Homo sapiens: one gene and its partners. The protein of the gene in region 1 interacts with the protein of each later gene in a pairwise test. Each region holds a gene or a part of one and is shown in the gene's direction. Other genes may lie near its edges.

Region 1 (3,500 bases):
AAACTGTCTGGGGAGCTTTTTAGAAATGTGAGTCCCCGGGCCAGGCATGGCGGCTCACGCCTGTAATCCCAGCACTTTGGGAGGCCAAGGCGGGCAGGTCACGAAGTCAGGAGATCGAGACCATCCTGGCTAACATGGTGAAACTCCCTATCTACTAAAAATACAAAAAATTAGCCAGGTGTGGTGGCGGGCACCTGTACTCCCAGCTACCTGGGGGGCTGAGGCAGGAGAATCGCTTGAACCCGGGAGGCAGACATTGCAGTGAGCCAAGATCACACCACTGAACTCCAGCTTGGGTGACAGAGCAAGACTCCGTCTCAGAAAAAAAACAAAAAACAAACAAACAAAAACCCCAAAAAAACAAGAAATGTAAGTCCCCGACCCACTGCCTGCGCTAGTAAATCGGAGCTTCCAAGAGTGACCCCTGGAGCTCCAAGCGGATATCCCCACACTCGGACTCTGTAGCTGTTGCTGTCTCTCAGCACAGCAGCGCTCCCAGCCGCTCTATCACTTATAGAAGTTGAATGTGATTGCTGTGATGAGATTGCTATGTCCTTGGCCCTTAGCAGCTCCAGATACCTCAGGAAGAAGCCCATGCCTGGCTCTGGGGCATTTTTATGATTAAAATCCTGCCAGGGCCAGAGCCAGGTGGTTGGTATAAGTGTAGGGGAGATGGGAGAAACACCAGGAAAAATAAGTCATGGACTGTTTGTTCTAATAACACATTTAGTTAGCATTTAGAAATTACAAGGTAGCGGCCAGGCGCAGTGGCTCATGCCTGTAATCCCAGCACTTTGGGAGGCCAAGATGGGCAGATCACTTGAGGCCAGGAGTTTGAGACCAGCCTGGCCAACATGGAGAAACCCTATCTCTACAAAAAATAAAAAAATTAGCTAGGTGTGGTGGTGTGCGCCTGTAGTCCCATGCATTTGGGAGGCTGAGGCACGAGAATCATTTGAACCCAGGAGGCGGAGGTTGCAGTGAGCACTCACTCCAGCCTGGGCAACAGAGCAAGACTCTGTCAAATAAACAAACAAATAAATAAATAAATAAATAAATAAATAAATAAATAAATAAATTACATGTTAGCTTCACACAGTCTATGGTGCTGAGGCTCCTGTGGGCTCCCGGCCACCCCTGGTGACTCTGCTTCATTCTTTTGCCTTTGTCTTCCTGCATTTCTTCTTTCTATCCTCTTCCCCTCTCGGTCCTGGCCCTGTTGCTCCCTTCTTCTCCCTTCCTTTTTGTGCGTGAGGATACTGACTTGAAATGCAGGCCTTCAGGAGGTTGCTGATCCCTTGGGCAGATGTCTTTTCAATAGCTTTGCCAGTCCACCAATATCCAAAATTTAATGAAAGCATCTCCACCCCTCAAAACCTGCTAAATTTGGGAGCTGCCTTCTAACAGGATATTTATGTAGCTGTGTTTTGATTGAGTCCCTTTTGGTAAATGCTTTTTAGTCCCTACTGTGACCAGCGTAGCATTGCAGAAACACATGAAACTTGAAGAAGAGGGGGAGAAATATCCCAGCCACAGAGCATTCATGGCCCCTTGTTTAGCTCCCATGAGAAAAGACGATTTTAAATTTCAGTAGAAAGGGTAAGCTTTAGAGTGAGATTGCAGTTCATGGCTCCACTATAAGACCCAGAAGAAAAATCTGCAAGGCCATTTAGCACTCACAATACCCAACAGCTTAATGATCTTCCAGGATGGAGTACTTCTGAAAGGAAATGAGAATCAATCTAAGGGAATTATGGTAAAAGATGAGAGTGTGAAGGGATTTATAATTTATTCCCCTGCCAGAAACCCAGCAAAAACAATATCAAAATAGGGTATTAGCTTCATCTTTTTTGTAAAACTACAAAGGGATGACAGATCATCGACTTAAAGAGTAGGAAGCTTCTTTCAGTGGGAGGAGCCACAGAACCATTACATGTTTCTCCGTATCTTTAGCAAAGTTCAGATTTCTCAAAAGGTAAAGAACACAGTCCTGAAATACCCAACTCAAACTTCTTTGCTTGAGGCCTAGAGCATGAGATGGGCCAGGAGGGAATCACAGAACTTCCCTATAGAGACCCTTGTTGAGCTGAGATCTCTAGGGAGGCAGAATTGAAGGAGGAGCCACACAGAGACGCCATCTTTCTAGGCTGTGACCCAGCACCTAATCCAGAGGAACAGTCTGGAGGGGAGGTAAAGAGGGAGGAAAGGAGGGAAGTGGCATTTTGCATTGTGACTGCTGAGCAGAGAAAAGAATCTAGGCCCCAGCCAGTCAAGAGAGAGACTAGAATTGCCCAAACTTCGTTTCTAGCCACAGTGGCCTTCTGCCTAATCTGTGAGCCTCAGAGTGGAGGATGCCCTAACCCTAACCCTAACCCTAACCCTAACCCTAACCCTAACCGTAACTCTAACCCTAACCCCAGCCCTAACCCCAACTCTAATGTGTCTCTCTGGGGCAGAGCAGTGGTTGGCGACAAGGTGCTTGGGAGCAAATATTCCAGTTGGTTGGCCACCTGCCCTGTCTCACTCCCTTTGCCCTCCCCACTGCTTTTAAGCAAATGATAGGTCCAGTAGATCTGCCTCATTCAAAGAAGGCCAATACCAGAGAGAATGCCAGTGAGACCTTGGGGTAGACAGAGTTGATTGAAAAGAAGGGGGTGGGGGGAGGAATGATAAAGACAAGAAACAAAAACAGAAAAAGACAGATGGGAAATACATATATGATCAAGAACTGCTCCTCCAGCACATTAAAGAACGTTTCTTACAGAAATTTTTCTACAGCCTCAAAGAAATGAAAGAGAATATGGGCTTTTTGAGAAAAATCTCAAAGACAAGACACAAGATGTTCAAAAATATATTATCACAAAGGGGATGGAAATCAGGCTGGAAGAGCTCAAGAAGAAAAGTAAAGACAAATAAAAGAACTGCAGAAATAAAAGTCCTGTTAGAAGCAGTAAGACACAGACGAAGACATTGCTGAAATTGATTTCCTCTGACATTCGCACACATCTTATAGAGTTGGTTTTGGCATGTGGAATGTGTTTGTAGCCGTGCTGTCAGTGATTTGGAAGACAAGCCTGAGAAAAATCATCTAAAATCAAGTGGGGAAGAATAAAAAAGGTGATTAGAGAGATCCCAGATATACATGATCAGGAACAAGAGAACAGAAAAGGAAAAGGAAAGGAAAAAAAAATAAAAGAAAACGAGAGAATGTTCAATGGGGAAATTACTTTGAACTAAAGGATGACCTGAATCTTCAGTTTAAATGACATGCCATGTTAAACATTGCCCCAGAAAGATCAACACACTGAGACATACTTGATACATTACTGAGCTTTGAGAATAAAAAACAACCCTTTTTGGCACCTAGACAATAATAATACTGTAATACCAACAACAGTAATAATAATAAAAAGAATGAAATAGAGTAAAGCCAGTGAAACAGGGAAGAAATTCAGACTGGCCCCAGATGTCTTCATGAACCCATTAAAAATCAGAAAATT
Region 2 (3,500 bases), on another chromosome or scaffold:
CCAGGAGCTTGCTTGTGCAGCCCTTTGTAGGCACAGCCTCCCTCACCCCTCTCTGTAACATTAGCCCATTGGGAGGTGTTTTGTTTTACCTAGTGTAATTTTAATTTGCGTTCTTTTATTATAAGTAAGGTCAAGTGACTTTCTGTATGTTTTAGAATCACTCATCATTCCTTTTTTATGAACTGTCAGTTCCTTTATACATTATTTTTCTGCTGAGTTGTCTTTTTCTCTGTGACTTGCAGGAGTTCTTCCTTAGGGAAATTAGGTCCTTGTGGTATGAGATTAAAATCCACCGTCCTCCATTTTGCCCTGCCTGTCCATAAGCCTGATGATTTGCCAGCATTTATGTCACATTTTAGATGCATGTATTTTTCCTTGCTGTTGAGTTTGATTTATTGATATTTGCAGATACTACAATAACTCTTGCAATAGTGGTGGACAAGTTGGCACCTCGATTGTCTCAGCTCAAGGTTCTGCACAAAGTGTTTAGTACTGGAGTAGCAGAAGTTCCACCTGATACTCGAAATGTCGTCCGGGCCTCTCACCTGCTTAACACCCTGTACAAGGCCATTCTTGAATATGACAATGTTGGAGAAGCCTCTGAGCAAACCGTAAGTGAGACTTCTGCCTAAAGTGTGTGACTCCATGCTGCACAGCAGAGGAGTGATAGACAGCTGATGGTAGTTCTTTGTTGATACTTGAATGATGACTCGTCAGACAGTTCAGAGTTTTTAAATTAACTTCCAAATTTAAGGCTGTAGGAAACTGGCTTTTCAGCTCTAATTGCCAAGATCCTCAGAAGGATGAGGCAAGGACAAGGCAAGCTGTGAGAAGTACCTACCTGATGTGTATAGATATTTACAATAACGCTTTCTTACATAAACACTAACATGTAACTAACATGACATGAGATAGCTGAAGTAGACACATCCACAGAAACAAAGTGGAATGCTGGTTACCAAGGGCTGGGGAATGGGGAGCTGTTGTTTAATGGGTACAGAGTTTCAGTTTTATAACATGAAAAAGTTCTGGAGATTTGTCACAACGATATGAATGTACTTAAAACCTCTGAACTTAAAAATGCTGAGGGTCAGGCACAGTGGCTCGTGCCTGTAATCCCAACACTTTGGGAGGCCGAGGCAGGAGGATTGATTGAGCCCAGGAGTTTGAGACTTGCCTGGGCAACATAGTAAGACTCTGTCTTTAAAAAATTAGTTAAATTAAAATTTTTTAAAATATACAGTTAAGATAAATTTTATGTTATATATTTTATATTGTATTTTAAAAAATACAAATCTAGGCCATGCATAGTGGCTCACGCCTGTAGTCCCAGCTACATATGAGTCTGAGGTGAGAGGATCACTTGAGCCCAGGAATTTGAGACCAGCCCGGGCAACATACTGAGACCCTGTCTCTACAAAAAATTTTTAAAGTAGCCAGGTGTGCTGACACCAGGAATTCGAGACCAGCCTGGCCAACATGGTGAAACCCCGTCTCTACTAAAAATACAAACATTAGCCTAGTGTGGTGGCGAACACCTGTCATCCCAGCTACTCAGGAGGCTGAGGCAGGAGAATTGCTTGAACCCGGGAGGATGCAGTGAGCCGAGATCGCACCACTACACTCCAGCCTGGGCAACAGAGCAAGACTCTGTCTCAAAAAAGGTAGCCAGCTCTGGAGGCACATGCCTATGGTCCCAGGTACTCGAGAGGCTAAGGCAGGAAGATGGCTTGAGTGTGGAAGGTCAAGGCTGCAGTGAGCCATGTTTGTGCCACTGCACTCCAGCTTGGGTAACAGAGCAAGACCCTGTCTCAAACAATATATAGATTTAAAAATAAAAATCTAACTAGAGGCTGTAATTTAGAATGCTACAGTCTTAGTTGGGTATGTACATTAGGTGTATTTTCTAGTTTGTTGGTATAACTTTTTTTCACACCAATTTAATACCATATTTCTTTTTTTCTTTTTTTTTTTTTTTTTTTTTTGAGACGTAGTCTTGCTCTGTTGCCAGGCTGGAGTGCAGTCGCACGATCTTGGCTCACTGCAACCTCCACCTCCCAGGTTCAAGTGATTCTTCTGCCTCAGCCCCCTGAGTAGCTGGGACTACAGGCGCACATCACCATGCCCGGCTAATTTTTTGGGGTTTTTTTTTGTTTTTTGTTTGAGATGGAGTCTCGCCCTGTCGCCCAGGCTGGAGTGCAGTGTCATGATCTTGGCTCACTGCAACCTCTGCCTCCTGGGTTCAAACTATTCTCCTGCCTTAGCCTCCTGAGTACCTGGGATTACAGGCGCCCACCACCATGCCCATCTAATTTTTGTATTTTTAATAGAGATGGGGTTTCACCATGTTGGCCAGGCTGGTCTCGAGCTCCTGACCTCCTGATCCGCCTACCTCGGCCTTCCAAAGTGCTGGGATTACAGGCATGAGCCACCACACCCAGCTGTATTTTTTTTTAATAGAGATGGGGTTTCACCATATTGGCCAGGCTGGTCTCAAACTCCTGCCCTTGTGATCTGCCCACCTCAGCCTCCCAAAGTGCTGGGGTTACAGGCGTGAGCCACCATGCCCAGCCAATTTCCTCATCCTTAATGGATGCTTTGCTAGTAATAGGATTTAGATAGGGAAACCTTGTTCGCTTGCCTGGGCTATCTCAGGATACACCTGCTGCCTCTGTGTCACTTTCACTCTCAAGTTTCCCAGTCTGGACTACAAACAATATGATCATCCCATATTTAGGTGAGTTTTTCTTTTTTCTTTTTTTTTTCTTTTTGTTTTGAGACAGTGTCACTCTGTTGCCAGGCTGGAGTGTAGTGGCACGATCTTGGCTCATTGCAGCCTCCACCTGCCAGATTCAAGCAATTCTCCTCCCTCAGCCTCCCAAGTAGCCAGGACTACAGGCGCGTGTCACCATGCCCAGCTAATTTTTGTATTTTTAGTAGAGAGGGGGTTTCACCATGTTGGCCAGGATGGTCTCGATTTCTTACCTCAGGTGATCCGCCCACCTCGGTCTCCCAAAGTGCTGGGATCACAGGCGTGAGCCACCACGCCCGGCATTTAGGTGAGTTTTTCATAAGGATTTTATAGTGTATGTTTTTGGATTTTTAATTTCTTTGTGCCCCAAAAAACATAGAAATCCGATCACTTTTTTAAAGGCATTTCAGAAATGTTTAAACCTCCTTTTATCCTAGTGACCAGGGAACCCTGAGAGCTGACCGTGCACACTCTCTGCCTCAGGTCTCCCTCCTTTTCTCTCTCTGGGTGGAAACGGTGCGGCCTTACCTGCAGACGGTGGACGAGTGGATCGTGCACGGGCACCTGTGGGATGGCGCCAGGGAGTTCATCATCCAGAGGTGAGCTGCAGCAGAGCACAAGGTCACTGGGGGCTGGCATCACCAGTTTCCTCCCCATGAAAATCAAATGCTTTCGTTAGTTTCAGACAGTACTGAGAAAGCACAGTTCACATCACAGAACTTGTCGTCATCATAGGCAAGTTCTATCT
Region 3 (3,500 bases), on another chromosome or scaffold:
GGCCTTTCAGTTAGAAAGGGCTGAAGAAAAAAGAGGTAAAGGCAAGACAGATAAGTGATTGATGCAAGGGAAAAACAAAATCAATGTTGATTTTTTTTAACATGGTATTTTCAGTCTCTGAAATCTCTCCCAGATTTCTATGATACGGGGCCAGAATGGGAAACTCTGGTTTAGAAGATTGTAGGGGAAAAAGCAGAGTGAAAAATAGGAAAAATAAGGAATGAGAAAGTATGATTTATGAGTATGTGGTTGAGGGAAATTTTGCTAAACAGATTCTTAGCTTCTGTCACCATTGGAGGTCAGAGAAAAACTCAACAGTATAGCAGCTGAGCAACAGAACGCTTGTCCTTCTGGCTATAAACAGACATAAATCTGGCTAGAGTTGGGAGCATTGCAGGCACATGCCCTTCTGTTACTATTTTGGCACCTCATCATCCTAGTTTGTTTACACTGAGTTTATCATGCCACCAGGTCCAACCTGTTTCCACTAGCAATTAGTACTTTGCCAAAACCTTTGGCTTCCTATGTTGAGCTTATACTCACCACACTGAAACAACTCTTACTTTGAGAGTTTTACCTGGACTTTCAGACTAGCCATTCTGTCAATAGAGAAAAGTACATATAGACTCATATGTGGCATATAGTGAATAACACTACTTTTATGTAGTCATTCAACATGAATGATGGGGCTGGGCGCAGTGGCTCGCGCCTGTAATCCCAGCTCCTTGGGAGGCCTAGGTGGGCAGATCACCGGAGGTCAGGAGTTCGAGACCAGCCTGGCCAACATGACAAAACCCCGTCTCTACTAAAAACACAAAAATTAGTCGGGCATGATGACAGGCGCCTATAATCCCAGCACTCTGGGAGGCCAAGGTGGGCGGATCACCTGAGGTCAGGAGTTTGAGACCAGCCTGGCCAACATGGTGAAACCCCATCTCTACTAAAAATACAAAAATTAGCCGGGCGTGGTGGTGGGCGCCTGTAGTCCCAGCTACTTGGCTGAGGCAGGAGAATCACTTGAACCTGGGAGGTAGAGGTTGCGGTGAGCCGAGATCACACCACTGCACTCCAGCCTGGGCGACAGAGTGAGAGTCCATCTCAAAAAAAAAAATCAAAGGATGGGAGCAGATTTTGAGGACAGAAGTTTAAAAAAAAAAAAATCGAAGGAATTTCATCAATAAGAAAAAAATAACAAGAAAGAATAAAAAGGTACAAAAGATGTGACATGCAACTTATAACCAAATGATTAAAAAATTTATTCTCATCAATCATTAGAGAAGTGCCAATTAAAACAACCATTAAATTGTTTTTTTACCTATGAAATTTGTGAAGATTCAAACAGGCACTCTCTCATATACTGTTGGGTTTGCATGTAAATCAGACAGTCTCTTTGAGGGTAACTTGGTAGTAAATGTTAACTTTTTTTTTTTTTTTTTTTTGAGACGAAGTCTTGCTCTGTCACCGAGGCTGGAGTGCAGTGCAACCTCTGCCTCCCGGGTTTAAGCAATTCTCCTGCCTCAGCCTCCCGAGTAGCTGGGACTACAGGTGTGTGCCACCACGCCTGGCTAATTTTTTGTATTAGTAGGGATGGGGTTTCACCATGTTAGCCAGGATGGTCTCAATCTCCTGACCTCGTGATCCGCCTGCCTCAGCCTCCCAAAGTGCTGGGATTACAGGTGTGAGCCACCGTGCCAGGCAGTAAATGTTAACTTTTTAAATGTTCAAGCTCTTTGATCCAGCAGTTCTGCTACTGTGAATTTATCCTATAGAAATACTCATACAAGTAAACAAAAAGAGTTAAGTTGTATTGTATTCAGTGCAGTATTTAAAATCATGAAATATTAGAAACAACCCTATTGTTCATCAGTTGAAAAGTAGCTACATAAACCACAGGGCATGCAAAAGATGTGATACAATACAGCTATTAAAAATAGTGAGGTAGGCCTCTAAATGGCCTAACAGGGAAAGGTGTTGGTGCTGATTAAAAGGCAAGCTGAAAAGAGCTATGTATAGTATCCCATTTTTTAAAAAAATTAAAAAGATAGTAATGAATATTAGCACCAGAAAAGAAAAAAATTCTTGAACACTGTTAAGTGTCTTTAGGGAATTGGTTCAGGAGACTTTCTATACTATATTTTTCTGTACAGTTAAGAACTATTAAAACAAATGTTATCTCTTAAAATCAGGGAGAAAAGCCATACATTTAAAATAATTAAAGGCATTTTGATCTATTAGGTAATTCTTTGTTCACTAGGATTCTGTAGAGAAGATAACTTTGCTATTTCTGGCAGTGTGGAGTATAATTATGGATAGAAATAAAACTTTTGCTTTGTAAAATGTGGTAGGATTTATAGCCAGGAATTTCAAAACCCTATATTTAACTTCCCTGACTTGAGATGTTCACTAATTAGATGATTAGCTTGTTTTACATCTGAAATTATCATCTTCTTGGTTACATTTATTATTTTTGGTAGCATGCTTGGTTCTCTCTTAAAGGGGTGTAACATTTAACAGTATACATTTTCTGGCAGATGAACTCCCAGCTAGCCCAGATGACTCGGATAATAGCGTGTCAGAGAGCCTGGATGAATTCGATTACTCTGTGGCTGAGATTAGCCGCTCATTCCGATCACAGCAGGAAATATGTGAGCAACTCAACATCAATCACATGATCCAAAGGATCTTCCTTATTACTCTGGACAACAGTGAGTTACAAACTTATAGCATTATTCTACCCTTCCTATTTGAGCTTGGGCTAGGGGCTTGCTCTTTGAAACTGGTTACAGCTAATGGTTAGATACAAACCTACTCACTGCACTCCCTGGAACTCAGGGTTTATATTTCAGTGAACCTTTTGGTATGACCTAAAAACAGTATTTAGATGCAGATCTAACTTTTGTTCCCATTTCAATACTGACTGCACTATATAGCTACTTGCCTTTACTACCTTAAAAAGGAAATGGGAAGGGTAGCCAAACCCATTTTCTTCTCAGAGGTAACCTAAATATTCAGATGGAAGCCTTCAGAGGCATCAGAGAGTGTTTGCCCTCTGTGCCCTGTCTGTGTTTAAACCCCAAGGTTGGTACTAATGTCTGGGATTTACTCTTTAAATGTCATGATGCTAGGTTTATAACAAATCCCATTCTCTGTGACTAGAGGGGGAAAAAAAAAGATTTGAATCTTTAGATGTTGCTTTGTGTATCAGGATCATTCTGGTATTACTTGAGTCAGATTTGCAGTTCAAGAGTGATGCTGTCAAGATCAGTTGTCTGTATAAAACAGAAGCATTATCCTTAACCTATCATATTAAAACCATTTCCCAGGTGATCCCAGCTTGAAAAGCGGGAATGGCATCCCTAGCCGTTGTGTGTATTTGGAAGAAATGGCAGTAGAGCTAGAAGATCAAGACTGGCTTGATATGAGCAATGTTGAGCAGGTAATATTCTTACGTTCCTAATGTGTGCCCTTAGCAAAAATTAGCTATGCGGCTGAATTCTGCT
Region 4 (3,500 bases), on another chromosome or scaffold:
ACTGAAGGGTACTATTTGTTTCTAGAAGAAACTTTGGTGTGCAGCCCTGAGTTCTGGTCTTGGTGGAGGTGGTGTTTAAGTAGCTTTTCTTGATAGCTCATCTTCTCTTTCACCTCTACCCCTCAGGGCTTGGACTGTGGTCCTGAAAGCAGCAAGAAGTATGCTGAGGCTGTCACTCGGGCTAAGCAGATTGTGTGGAATGGTCCTGTGGGGGTATTTGAATGGGAAGCTTTTGCCCGGGGAACCAAAGCTCTCATGGATGAGGTGGTGAAAGCCACTTCTAGGGGCTGCATCACCATCATAGGTAAGCGGTCCTATACAAAGCTAATACCCATATAAGCTGGCAGAATTCTGATCAGAGGAAGGTGGAATGGAGAACTTCTTCTATGTCTCTTTATTCTGGGTAAATGTTAAGAGGTAAACAGGTAGGTAATTTACAGAGGAGCCTCTTGGTAAGATAGAGTTGGGGGTTTATCAGCTACCTTTTGGGTTGGGGAGCACACTGCCTTACAGTTTTGGTGCCAATCCCTTTTTTTTCTTTTCTCTCTTTTCCCTTTTTACCTGGCTTTCATTCAACAGGTGGTGGAGACACTGCCACTTGCTGTGCCAAATGGAACACGGAGGATAAAGTCAGCCATGTGAGCACTGGGGGTGGTGCCAGTTTGGAGCTCCTGGAAGGTGAGGGTCTTCTGTTTTTTGGCTTGTTTGGGATAAGGGTGGACTGTGCAGTGAGAGGTGGGTAGAATGGAGTGGAGAAAGTTAGAAGGTAGTGTTGTCATTAGCAGTCATTACTACCTGGGCAGTACAGAGGAACTTCAGATAAAGCTCCTGGCATCCACTGAGGCGGGGAGGGACAGATAGAAACTTGGTCTGAGAGTTATGGTCTAGTAGACCTGGAATCCACAATGTAAAAGTTGGCCAGCTCCTGGCCATATATCCTAAAAAAGAGCTGGCATGTTATTGGGAAGATAAAGTGGGGGAAATCTGGCTTACTGGGCCCTATAGTAATGCTGTCTATGTATGTGTGCTCTCTCAAAAACAGGTAAAGTCCTTCCTGGGGTGGATGCTCTCAGCAATATTTAGTACTTTCCTGCCTTTTAGTTCCTGTGCACAGCCCCTAAGTCAACTTAGCATTTTCTGCATCTCCACTTGGCATTAGCTAAAACCTTCCATGTCAAGATTCAGCTAGTGGCCAAGAGATGCAGTGCCAGGAACCCTTAAACAGTTGCACAGCATCTCAGCTCATCTTCACTGCACCCTGGATTTGCATACATTCTTCAAGATCCCATTTGAATTTTTTAGTGACTAAACCATTGTGCATTCTAGAGTGCATATATTTATATTTTGCCTGTTAAAAAGAAAGTGAGCAGTGTTAGCTTAGTTCTCTTTTGATGTAGGTTATTATGATTAGCTTTGTCACTGTTTCACTACTCAGCATGGAAACAAGATGAAATTCCATTTGTAGGTAGTGAGACAAAATTGATGATCCATTAAGTAAACAATAAAAGTGTCCATTGAAACCGTGATTTTTTTTTTTTTCCTGTCATACTTTGTTAGGAAGGGTGAGAATAGAATCTTGAGGAACGGATCAGATGTCTATATTGCTGAATGCAAGAAGTGGGGCAGCAGCAGTGGAGAGATGGGACAATTAGATAAATGTCCATTCTTTATCAAGGGCCTACTTTATGGCAGACATTGTGCTAGTGCTTTTATTCTAACTTTTATTTTTATCAGTTACACATGATCATAATTTAAAAAGTCAAGGCTTATAACAAAAAAGCCCCAGCCCATTCCTCCCATTCAAGATTCCCACTCCCCAGAGGTGACCACTTTCAACTCTTGAGTTTTTCAGGTATATACCTCCATGTTTCTAAGTAATATGCTTATATTGTTCACTTCTTTTTTTTTTATTTTTTAAAGAAATCTATTTCATACCATGGAGGAAGGCTCTGTTCCACATATATTTCCACTTCTTCATTCTCTCGGTATAGTTTTGTCACAATTATAGATTAGATCAAAAGTCTACATAACTAATACAGCTGAGCTATGTAGTATGCTATGATTAAATTTACTTATGTAACTTTTATTGTCTTTGGCATTAACAGTGTTTCAAAAAATTTTCTGTGTATACCCATCAGTGATTCATTCCCAAATCTTCTAGAAGCATAAGTGTCTCAATATATTAAAACATATTGAATAATCCTTGTTAGAGTTATCCCTGCAGGAGTCCTTAGTGCTCCTTTATCCAATTTGTACTTGATGCCCTCTAGGCAGGGTGTACAGCTAGCTGTTGCTCTGGTATTTCCTATAACCTTCTTGGGGATTTCTTTTACCTCCTGTGTTAGACTCCTGTTTTCTGGATTCCCCCTTTTCCCTCTTTCTTGGTCTACTTTTTGTAGAACACAAGACTCTACTAGCTTCCTGAGAAAGGGTGCCTGGGAGGCAAAATCTCTAAGACTTTGTAAGTCTGAAAATGTCTTTATTCGACCCTTATACTTGATTCCTAGTTTGGCTATATATAGAATTTTAGCCTGAGTATCACTTTTTGAGACTCGAAGCCACTGTTTCATTGTCACTATTGAGAATCTAAATGGCCATTCGGATTCTTTCATCATCTTTATAATTTTACCTTCCTATTTCTTTCCTGTCCTTTTAATGGAGTTTTGGGAGAGAGCAGAGGTAAACATGATTTGAAAAAGCCATGTCTGACCAGAAATTCTGTGCTGGAAAGATATGTATTTCACCTTTAGGGACAAAGAAATAAACTTTTGGACAGGACCACAGAGCTAGTAAGTAACAGCAGGGATTCAAGTCCAGGTTTGTCTGGTTCCAGTGGCTGATGCTTTTCCAATGTGCCTCCGTCCCTGACATGATGCTTCTAGGCTATAGATGCTTCTAGACTCTATCCCTGACATGATGCTTCTAGACTATTTTGTTTAACCCTGGATAGAATAGCAAAAGAAAATTTTGGTGGTTGCTCTAAACAAAACAGAAATTTGAAAGCTCAAGTTTTTTCTTCATTTGTATTTTAGTTAATACTGTACCCATATTTGTAGTTAATTTTAAATTGTACCATGTTTCTGCATACCTCTATGGGTACTCAGGAATTCTAGTCCAATTTTTGTGACTTTTTCCTACTGATTACCTTTCCTCCAACGTTTTAAAAATTATTTCAAATGGAACTGAAAGAAGCATAAACTCCCATAAACCCAGCACCTAGACTCTACAATTGCCAACATTATCTATCCAACAATCTCTGACTGTACCTTTTAAGTACTTTCTACTGGACTGTTTCCAGGATCACCCCTCATTTATTTGGGTTGTTAACCTAAAGAATGAATGGGGGAATCTCCAGTCATAAACAACTTGTCAATTAGGCAAATATTTGAGTTCCTTCTATGTGCTTAAAGACGTGATAGAGGGAATATAAGAGCATTTATGTTCTGAAGGAATTTTTAACCTAACCAAAGAAGATAGTAGATAACTTGTGTGCATATAAG

The links.
Region 2: the proteins of CLIC6 (region 1) and TUBGCP5 interact in a two-hybrid assay, tested with the Homo sapiens proteins (one large-scale study listed by BioGRID and IntAct).
Region 3: the proteins of CLIC6 (region 1) and UBE4A interact in a two-hybrid assay, tested with the Homo sapiens proteins (one large-scale study listed by BioGRID and IntAct).
Region 4: the proteins of CLIC6 (region 1) and PGK1 interact in a two-hybrid assay, tested with the Homo sapiens proteins (one large-scale study listed by BioGRID and IntAct).

What each region holds. Positions count from the first base shown.
Region 1 is NC_000021.9:34,710,494-34,713,993, forward strand, and holds part of CLIC6 (chloride intracellular channel protein 6), read left to right. Parts: intron 1-3,500. UniProt on the Homo sapiens protein: In the soluble state, catalyzes glutaredoxin-like thiol disulfide exchange reactions with reduced glutathione as electron donor. Can insert into membranes and form voltage-dependent chloride-selective channels.
Region 2 is NC_000015.10:23,019,070-23,022,569, reverse strand, and holds part of TUBGCP5 (gamma-tubulin complex component 5), read left to right. Parts: intron 1-408; coding exon 409-611; intron 612-3,189; coding exon of another isoform or gene 3,190-3,235; coding exon 3,236-3,351; intron 3,352-3,500. UniProt on the Homo sapiens protein: Component of the gamma-tubulin ring complex (gTuRC) which mediates microtubule nucleation.
Region 3 is NC_000011.10:118,366,100-118,369,599, forward strand, and holds part of UBE4A (ubiquitin conjugation factor E4 A), read left to right. Parts: intron 1-2,531; coding exon 2,532-2,705; intron 2,706-3,323; coding exon 3,324-3,436; intron 3,437-3,500.
Region 4 is NC_000023.11:78,124,748-78,128,247, forward strand, and holds part of PGK1 (phosphoglycerate kinase 1), read left to right. Parts: intron 1-126; coding exon 127-304; intron 305-579; coding exon 580-678; intron 679-1,042; coding exon 1,043-1,083; 3' UTR 1,084-3,500. UniProt on the Homo sapiens protein: Catalyzes one of the two ATP producing reactions in the glycolytic pathway via the reversible conversion of 1,3-diphosphoglycerate to 3-phosphoglycerate.